2 linked regions of the Homo sapiens genome follow. The protein of the gene in region 1 interacts with the protein of each later gene in a pairwise test. Each region holds a gene or a part of one and is shown in the gene's direction. Other genes may lie near its edges. The genes, in order: FGR and NR1I2.

What was found.
Region 2: the proteins of FGR (region 1) and NR1I2 interact in a two-hybrid assay, tested with the Homo sapiens proteins (one large-scale study listed by BioGRID and IntAct).

What each region holds. Positions count from the first base shown.
Region 1 is NC_000001.11:27,628,649-27,632,459, reverse strand, and holds part of FGR (tyrosine-protein kinase Fgr), read left to right. Parts: intron 1-3,811. UniProt on the Homo sapiens protein: Non-receptor tyrosine-protein kinase that transmits signals from cell surface receptors devoid of kinase activity and contributes to the regulation of immune responses, including neutrophil, monocyte, macrophage and mast cell functions, cytoskeleton remodeling in response to extracellular stimuli, phagocytosis, cell adhesion and migration.
Region 2 is NC_000003.12:119,806,043-119,809,853, forward strand, and holds part of NR1I2 (nuclear receptor subfamily 1 group I member 2), read left to right. Parts: intron 1-1,186; coding exon of another isoform or gene 1,187-1,208; coding exon 1,209-1,405; intron 1,406-3,811. UniProt on the Homo sapiens protein: Nuclear receptor that binds and is activated by variety of endogenous and xenobiotic compounds.

The sequences.
Region 1 (3,811 bases):
GAGATGAAAGGGGGTTAATGAAGGCAGGGCACGGTGGCTCACGCCTGTAATCCCAGCACTTTAGGAGGCCGAGGTGGGTGGATCACCTGAGGTCAGAAGTTCAAGAACAGCCTGGCCAACATGACTAAACCCCATCTCTACTAAAAATACAAAAATTTAGCTGGGCATGGTGGCAGACGCCTGTAATCCCAGCTACTCAGGAGGCTGAGGCAGGAGAATTGCTTGAACCCGGGAGGCAGAGGTTGCAGTGAGCCGAGATCGAACCATCGCATTCCAGCCTTGGCGACAGAATGAGACACTGTTTCAAAAAAAAAAAAAAGAAGAAGAAGAAGAAGAAGAACAAAGAAAGAAAGAAAGGGAGTTAATGAGCAGTGGGGGCCTCAGCAAAGGCACTGGCATTCAGCCAGGTGGAGGGTCTCGGTGAGAGGACTGAGGGTGAGGGATGGAAGCCCGCCCGGTCTGAGGGATAGGGCCTAGTGAGAGATGCGGCACAGTGGGATGGGAGTCACCTGCAGACCTCAGCCTTGCTCCCTGACCCTCCAGCCCTGGCCTGCCCCCGGCCAGCCCAGAGCCTGGAGGAGAAGCCGGAACTCTTGCAGGATGGTGGTTTCCTGCCCCTGCCCAAAGTCCCGGTTCCCTTTTGATGAAATCCCCCAGGCGGCTGGGCCAGCTCAGCCCTCTCACCTCACCCTGGGAACTTCTCTTTCTTCTCAGCCCTGCCCAGTTCTGTACCCTCTGGTCCCACACCGTCACTGCCACGGAGGACCTTCCTCAAGGGAAAGGAGGGAAGTGAAAGTTCACTGGGCACTTACTGTATGTCTGATGCTTTCAGTGATGTGACCCCATTTGATGCTGAGAAGCAACCCCAGGAGGTGGACATTTGTATTCTTATTTTATAGGCAAAGATGCTGCCGCTCAGGGAGATGAACTGACTTGCCCAATGCCTTAAGCTAGTTGTCAGGCAGGCTAGAATTTGAGCCTAAATCTGCCTCTAGATCCCACAGATACTTGGTGAGGGTTGCGGGGGCAGGACATCCTGTGTCTACATCAAAGAACTGGCATAGCTTTGGGAAGTGTGGGCCTCGAAAAAGGATGGGTGGACCTGGGGTTCCTATGTCCAGCAGTAGGGGTGAGTGGGAGGCAGGGTCCCTCCCTGCTGGGTGACCAGCTGCCATATGACAGGGGTGGTGTGTTCGACCGGAAGTATGACATTCACTAGTTAGGAACAGCATGATCTCCTGCTCAGGCTTTGGAGAACACAGCAGTGGGGGAGGGAACAGAACTCTGGACTTGAATTAATAGTCCTGACTTTGAATCCCTTGTCTGGCTGTGTGATCCTGGGAAAGTAACTTCCCCCTATGCAAAAGAGAAGGTGGAGTGGTAAATGGTCCCTGGGGGCCATTCTGGTTTTGGTTATTGGTCACACTTGGCCACTGCACATCGGGCAAGAGCCACATGTCATGAAGCCCTCACAACAACTACTCAGAAGGTGCAGATGCAACAACTAAGGCTCAGAGGCTTATGTCAAAGATCCAAGGTCATAGAGCTACTGAAGAATGGAGCTGGGGAGGGCCACAGGGCAGATGTTGAAGTGAGGAGCACTGCGGTCCAGGGTTGGACCTCAGTTTGATACTTGTAACCTGATTTTGACCCTGATGGGGATCTCGGAGGCGACTCCTGTAAACCAGATGTTCAAGAGACATATTTATAAACAGAACCAAGTGCCCAGAATGATGCTGTGGCTACTCTCTGAGCTGCCCCCTTTCTGGTATTAGCAGGCAGCGAAGTTCAGTGCTGAGAAAAGAGAGACCTGGCTTCTTCAGATTCAGCGACTGCCTGAGAAAATCTGGGCAGATATGGCTCTCTCTCTCTCTCTCCTGCGCCCCTCCCTCCCCCCACCTGCGCCCTGCCTGCTGTATCAAGGATTTAGAGCATGAGGCACAGGGCTGAGAACACTAGGTGCTCCTTAAGAGACACACGTTATTGCAGGGGTGTCCAATCTTTTGGCTTCCCTGGGCCGCATTGGAAGAAGAAAAATTGTCTTGAGCCACACATAAAATACACTAACACTAATGATAGCTGATGAGCTTTAAAAAATTGCAAAAAAGGCCGGGTGCAGTGGCTCATGCCTGTAATCCCAGCACTTTGGGAGGCCGAGGCGGGCAGATCACGAGGTCAGGAGATCGAGACCATCCGGGCTAACACGGTGAAACCCCGTCTCTACTCAAAATACAAAAAATTAGCCAGGCGTGTTGGCAGCGCGCCTGTAGTCCCAGCTACTCAGGAGGCTGAGGCAGAAGAATCACTTGAACCCAGGAGGCGGAGGTTGCAGTGAGCCAAGATTGTGCCACTTTACTCCAGCCTGGGCAACAGAGTGAGACCCCGTCTCAAAAAAAATCACAAAAAAAATCTCATAATGTTTTCAGAAAGTTTACTAATATGTGTTGGGCCACATTCAAAGCTGTCCTGGGCTGCATATGGCCCATGGACCATGGGATGGACAAGCTTGCATTATTGCTTCTACTAGGATTACAGAATGGACTAGTGGTTACAGTGGTTTTTGGCAACAAGTTGATCAGCATTGCATTTTAGCATCCTTTACTCACAATGTAATCTTGGGCAAGTTACTTAACATCTCTGTGCCTCAGTTTCTTCATCTGTAAAATAAGGGTAGTCATAAACCCACCTCATAGGTTCACCAAATAAGACCATGACTGGGAGTTACTTGGCAAGATGCTAGTCACTGTGTAACTGTTTAATAAATTAGCTCATTTTTACTGCCACCTGGATTTCTAGGAAGTCAAATTACTCTCCAAAGAATTGGTGGCACATAGAGATCAGAGCAAGAGGAGGATGAAGAGTCCTAGGGCTATTTTCATGCAGATGTCTGAGCAGAGTGAACCCAATCTGCTCTCCCTCCGTCTTTTTCCCTCCTTGTCTCTTTAGCTCTCTCTCTCTCTTTCTCTTCATCTCTGCCTCTCTCTGTTTCTATCTCTTTCTGTCTCTTGATTACTCTTTCTCCTTAATTCTCATTTCTGCCTCTGTCTCTTTGTCTCTGTTTCTTTCTGGCAGTGTGTGCTGGAGCCAGCTACTTACTGGCTCAGGGGAGTTCATTCTGTGTGTCTCTTCCACCCCAGCTTTCAGGAAGTCACTTTGGTAGCTTTAAATCAGCCATTGTGGGAATATTTACACCATGGAAATCAGAAAATGTGACAAATCAGGGCTTTTTCTTTTCTTTTCTTTTCTTTTTTTGAGAGTCAGTTTACCAGCATACCACGCTGTGTTTCTCTGTCTCTGTCTCTTCCTTCTATCTCTCTGTCTTTCTGTCTCTCTGGCTCTTTCTCTTTATCTCCCTGTATCTCTCAAACTCTGCCTCTCTCTCTCTTTCTTTCTGCCTCTCCTTTTTCTGTCTTTCCCCATCTCTTTCTTTCCTCTGACAAAACAGCATGAACATGGCTACATGCAGTGTGGCCCCTCCCTGCCTTGGGCCATGCAGATGTCATACCCTGTGCCCTACATCCCCTGACGCCTCAGCATACTGGTCCCCAGAGAGCCAGGCCTGGCCAGGGCTTTGGTCTGCATCAAGTTTGGAAGTGATAAGACCCAAGAGCTGCCTACCTCTGCCTGCTGACGACACGGTCAGTCCTGCCAGGGCTCTTCCTGAGCCCACAGAGCTTCCTTCTCAGATGCTGATAGTCTCTCCCTTCCAGCCATACTGGGCATGCAGAATTCAGGGATCCCCTCCATCTGATATAGATATGTTGTGGCAATATATACGTGGGTATTATTGGAAGTGGCAATATTGTATCTG
Region 2 (3,811 bases), on another chromosome or scaffold:
GGAAACAGAAATTTATGTGTTAGAATTTTACTAAAGTTTCGATTTTGGCATTAGAAAAAGCATCGTCATCTGTGGTGGTGTCTGCCCTTGTCAGTCAGTGCCTAGAGAGAATTTTGGGGATGGTAGTAACAGGACAATCCCCCATTTCTACTGAACATCCTCAGTGTCTGTTCCAAGTAGAATTCAAGTTATGCTCTCAAGGTGGAAGTTGCCTGGGGAGGACATCCTTGAGTACAGCTCAATTTTTTTTCTTTCTTTTAGAGATGAGGTCTCACTTTATCACCCAGGCTAGAGTGCTCTGGCATGATTCTAGCTCACTGCAGCCTCAAACCCTCAGGCTCAAGAGATCCTCCCCGCTCAGCTTCCCAAGTAGCTGGGACTATAGGCTCACACCATCGATCTTGGCTGTTTTTTTTTATTTTTTGTAAAGATGAGATCTCACTTTGTTGCCCAGGCTGGTCTCAGATTCCTGGGCTCAAGCGATCCTCTTGCCTCAGCCTCCCAAAGCCCCGGGATTACAGGCATCAGCCACCATGCTTAGCTACAGCTCTATTAATAGGCACAAGTTCTTCAATATTCACTGAGACCCCAGCTCTGCTGGGACCACAGGCCATTTTTCTTCCCATGTTGTGATCTTGCCCACCATGCCTCCACTTTTTCCCCATCTGCCTGGCTACTTAGTTGAAAACTCTTTCTGCTCAGCCTTTCTAGCTCCCTGTGGGAGCTTGGGCCACACCCCACCTGAAAGACTATCCTCCCTCAATGTCCCCAGTCCCAGAAATCATCTTGAACAAGTAATCTGTCCATGAGCTGCTCCCCATTCAGACCTCTGGCCAGGTTGTGGCCTCCTAACCTCAGTCCACTCAGCTGTGGCCTCCATGATCCGACCCAGACAGCCTGCTCTCTTTTCTTCTCATTTCTTCCTCCCTCTTACCCTTATCTTTCCCATGCTCCTGTTCACATGTTCTACTCCAGGGCTCTATTTTTGTGTACAAAATGTCATGATTACAGCTCTCTTTATAACAATTCCAACCCCCATTCCCCGCTTTTTTTCCCCATGAGAGGTCAGCTCCCGAGTTCACAGGCCCAAATGTGAGTGATGCATAGAAGGGACAGAGTGTTTCCTCTGAGGCCTCTACACATCCCTGTCCAGTCTTTTCATTCTCTGTGGTTTTCTCATTTCTAGTCCAAGAGGCCCAGAAGCAAACCTGGAGGTGAGACCCAAAGAAAGCTGGAACCATGCTGACTTTGTACACTGTGAGGACACAGAGTCTGTTCCTGGAAAGCCCAGTGTCAACGCAGATGAGGAAGTCGGAGGTCCCCAAATCTGCCGTGTATGTGGGGACAAGGCCACTGGCTATCACTTCAATGTCATGACATGTGAAGGATGCAAGGGCTTTTTCAGGTAGAGTTACCCATCAGCCTTCACCCACGTGCCACCACTGACCCACTGGGTAACGTCTCAGGGCCTCAGCTTGACCTGTCCCCCAGGTTCAGAGTGTGGGCTGGTGGCCCACCCAAAGGCCTTGTAATTAGTCTCAAGGGAGCCATTTATATCCCAGAGGAATCCTTCATCTTCAGTCTTCCTGTTCTACCCAGGAAAGGTCTCCTTCCATTAAGATATCCCTTGGTTTCTCCATGTGCTCTTGAATAAAATGGAAAATGACTCAGTGAAAGATAAGGAATTTGAAAATCCCAAATCCAAGTGTTCACATCCGCCTTCTGGGGTGGTTGTTACATAAAGAATGGCATAAAATAAATGCTTAGACCATGGGAAGAGAAACAGACCGAAGGGAGGGGAAGGGCGGGGAGGGGAGAAAGCCATGTGTGAGGAAGCACTCCAGGTGCACCCTCCGGAGGGCACAGGGTATGCAAGGAGCAGCTCCCATCTCGGGAGCCACATGTGGGACCCTCATGCATTCCCAAGACAGCCAGCCTGACAGCCCTTTGCAGAGTTCTTCGTGGTGGCTGGGCATTCAAATGGAAAAGGGCAGGTTCCAGGGAGAAATGAACATTCGTGTTGCATGAGTTATAACAGGGGTGAGACACATCAGCAGTGTCAGACTGGGTTCAGCTACAAGTCACAGGACACTTGTCGCCAATTGGTTTGGCAATAAGGAAAATGTGTTACCTCTCCTAACAGGAAGTCTGAAGGCCTCCAGGTTAGTGAGTTCAGCAGCTCATTTCTTTCCATTTTTCTCTTCAGCCATCCCACCTGAGAGCTCTGATTGCAGTCTGGCTCCCCTTGTGGGGGCACAGTGCTGGGGCCCCAGGCAGGAATCATTATGTTCAGCAGAAGCGCACAAAGGCCCATCTTTGAGAGTAAGGAAATCTTTCCCAGGAGTCCCCTCACATTGGCTAGAGCCGGGCCCAGCCTATGCCTGAACTAGTCACTAGCAAAGAGCAGCAGGTATGTCCCTGAGCTGGGCACACGCCACTTGACTGTGTGGAAGAGGGTGGATGTCTGCACCAGCTCCAGATGCTGCTGGCACAGAAGAGGCTGCCCAAGCAGTGTTCGTGCATCCTGCCTCAGCATGCAGGAATCTTCTGCTCTCCCTTCCTCATTTGGGTACTATTCCTGGGACTCTCAGAAAAAGGCAACATGTTGTAGTGGGCAAAAGCTAAATCCAGTATCAGGCAGACCTGGATTCAAATTTCAGCTTGTCATGTACCTGGAGGACAGCTGGGGATCCATCGTCTCCAAGCCTCAGTCTCCCTCATCTGTGCTAGGCAGATGAGATTATGAGTTTCACAGGGTTTTAGAACTAAATTTACAAAACTGCAAAATACCTAGCCTAGCATCTGATACATAGCATACCTTTAAATAATGTGAGCCCCGGTTTCATCTTTTACCCATTCTCAGTGGACTTTGATGTAGCATCAGAGTTTTCTTACCCAGGCCAGTTGGGAAGGCAAAAGGCAGGGATGGCATCTGTGAAGAACATGCCCCTGGGCTGGTCACTGGTCCGAGGCCCGAGGCCTCCAAGCTCAAACCTGCCAGGTCACTGCGGGCTTGGCTCAGCTTCCCAGGCCTGCCCTCGGGGACCTCTGCAGCCCTACCTGGCTGTTCCATGCTCCTGGGCCAGCCTTCCCTCAGTTTCCACTCTGGACCAGAATCAGAGGCCAGAGCCAAGGGAGAGATTGTTTCTTTCCATCCAGCTGTGGAGATGGGGAAAGTAAAGGTAGGACTGCACTGACCGTGTCTTTTGTGGGACAGGCAGGACTTCCGGGCTGGGAGGAGGAGATCTTGTACCAGAGTCTCCAAAAGGCATCTGCCCCATTGCCTCTCTGCGCACCGCAGAGAGGGGTGTGCGGGCCCGTGGGTCCCGCCTGCACGCTCTGCTGTTCCAGGCGCTCGACCTCTTTGCCCCCTAGGTCAACGAGGGGAATCCACTCTGCCATGGGGAAGTCGCTGCCCCGTAGGGTATAAGAACTTCCCCATAGTTCACCCCTTCCTCCCTGGCCGCCCAGTCTGGAAGGGGAGCTGGAGAAGGCGGCGGGGGGTGGGGGGAAGGCGGGGGGGAAGGCGGGGGGGTGGGGCGGGCTTCTCTGGTTTCTTACCCTCCTGGGGTCAGGTTTCCTCAGCTCCCTCCCTTAAGGAGGGGAAATCGAGGAAGAGGCCCATCTCCATGGAAACTTTCTGGTAACAAGGCTGTGAAAGAGAAGGGGACAGGTGTTTCAGGAAGAAGGGAAGGCGCTGAGGATGGGCCTGGAGAGGAAGTGTCCCTGAAAGTGGTTTTGGGGCTGCCCGCGCCAGCGAAAAGCACGTGTCCCATTTCCTGCCGGAATGGCCAGAAAAGGTCTCCTCCCC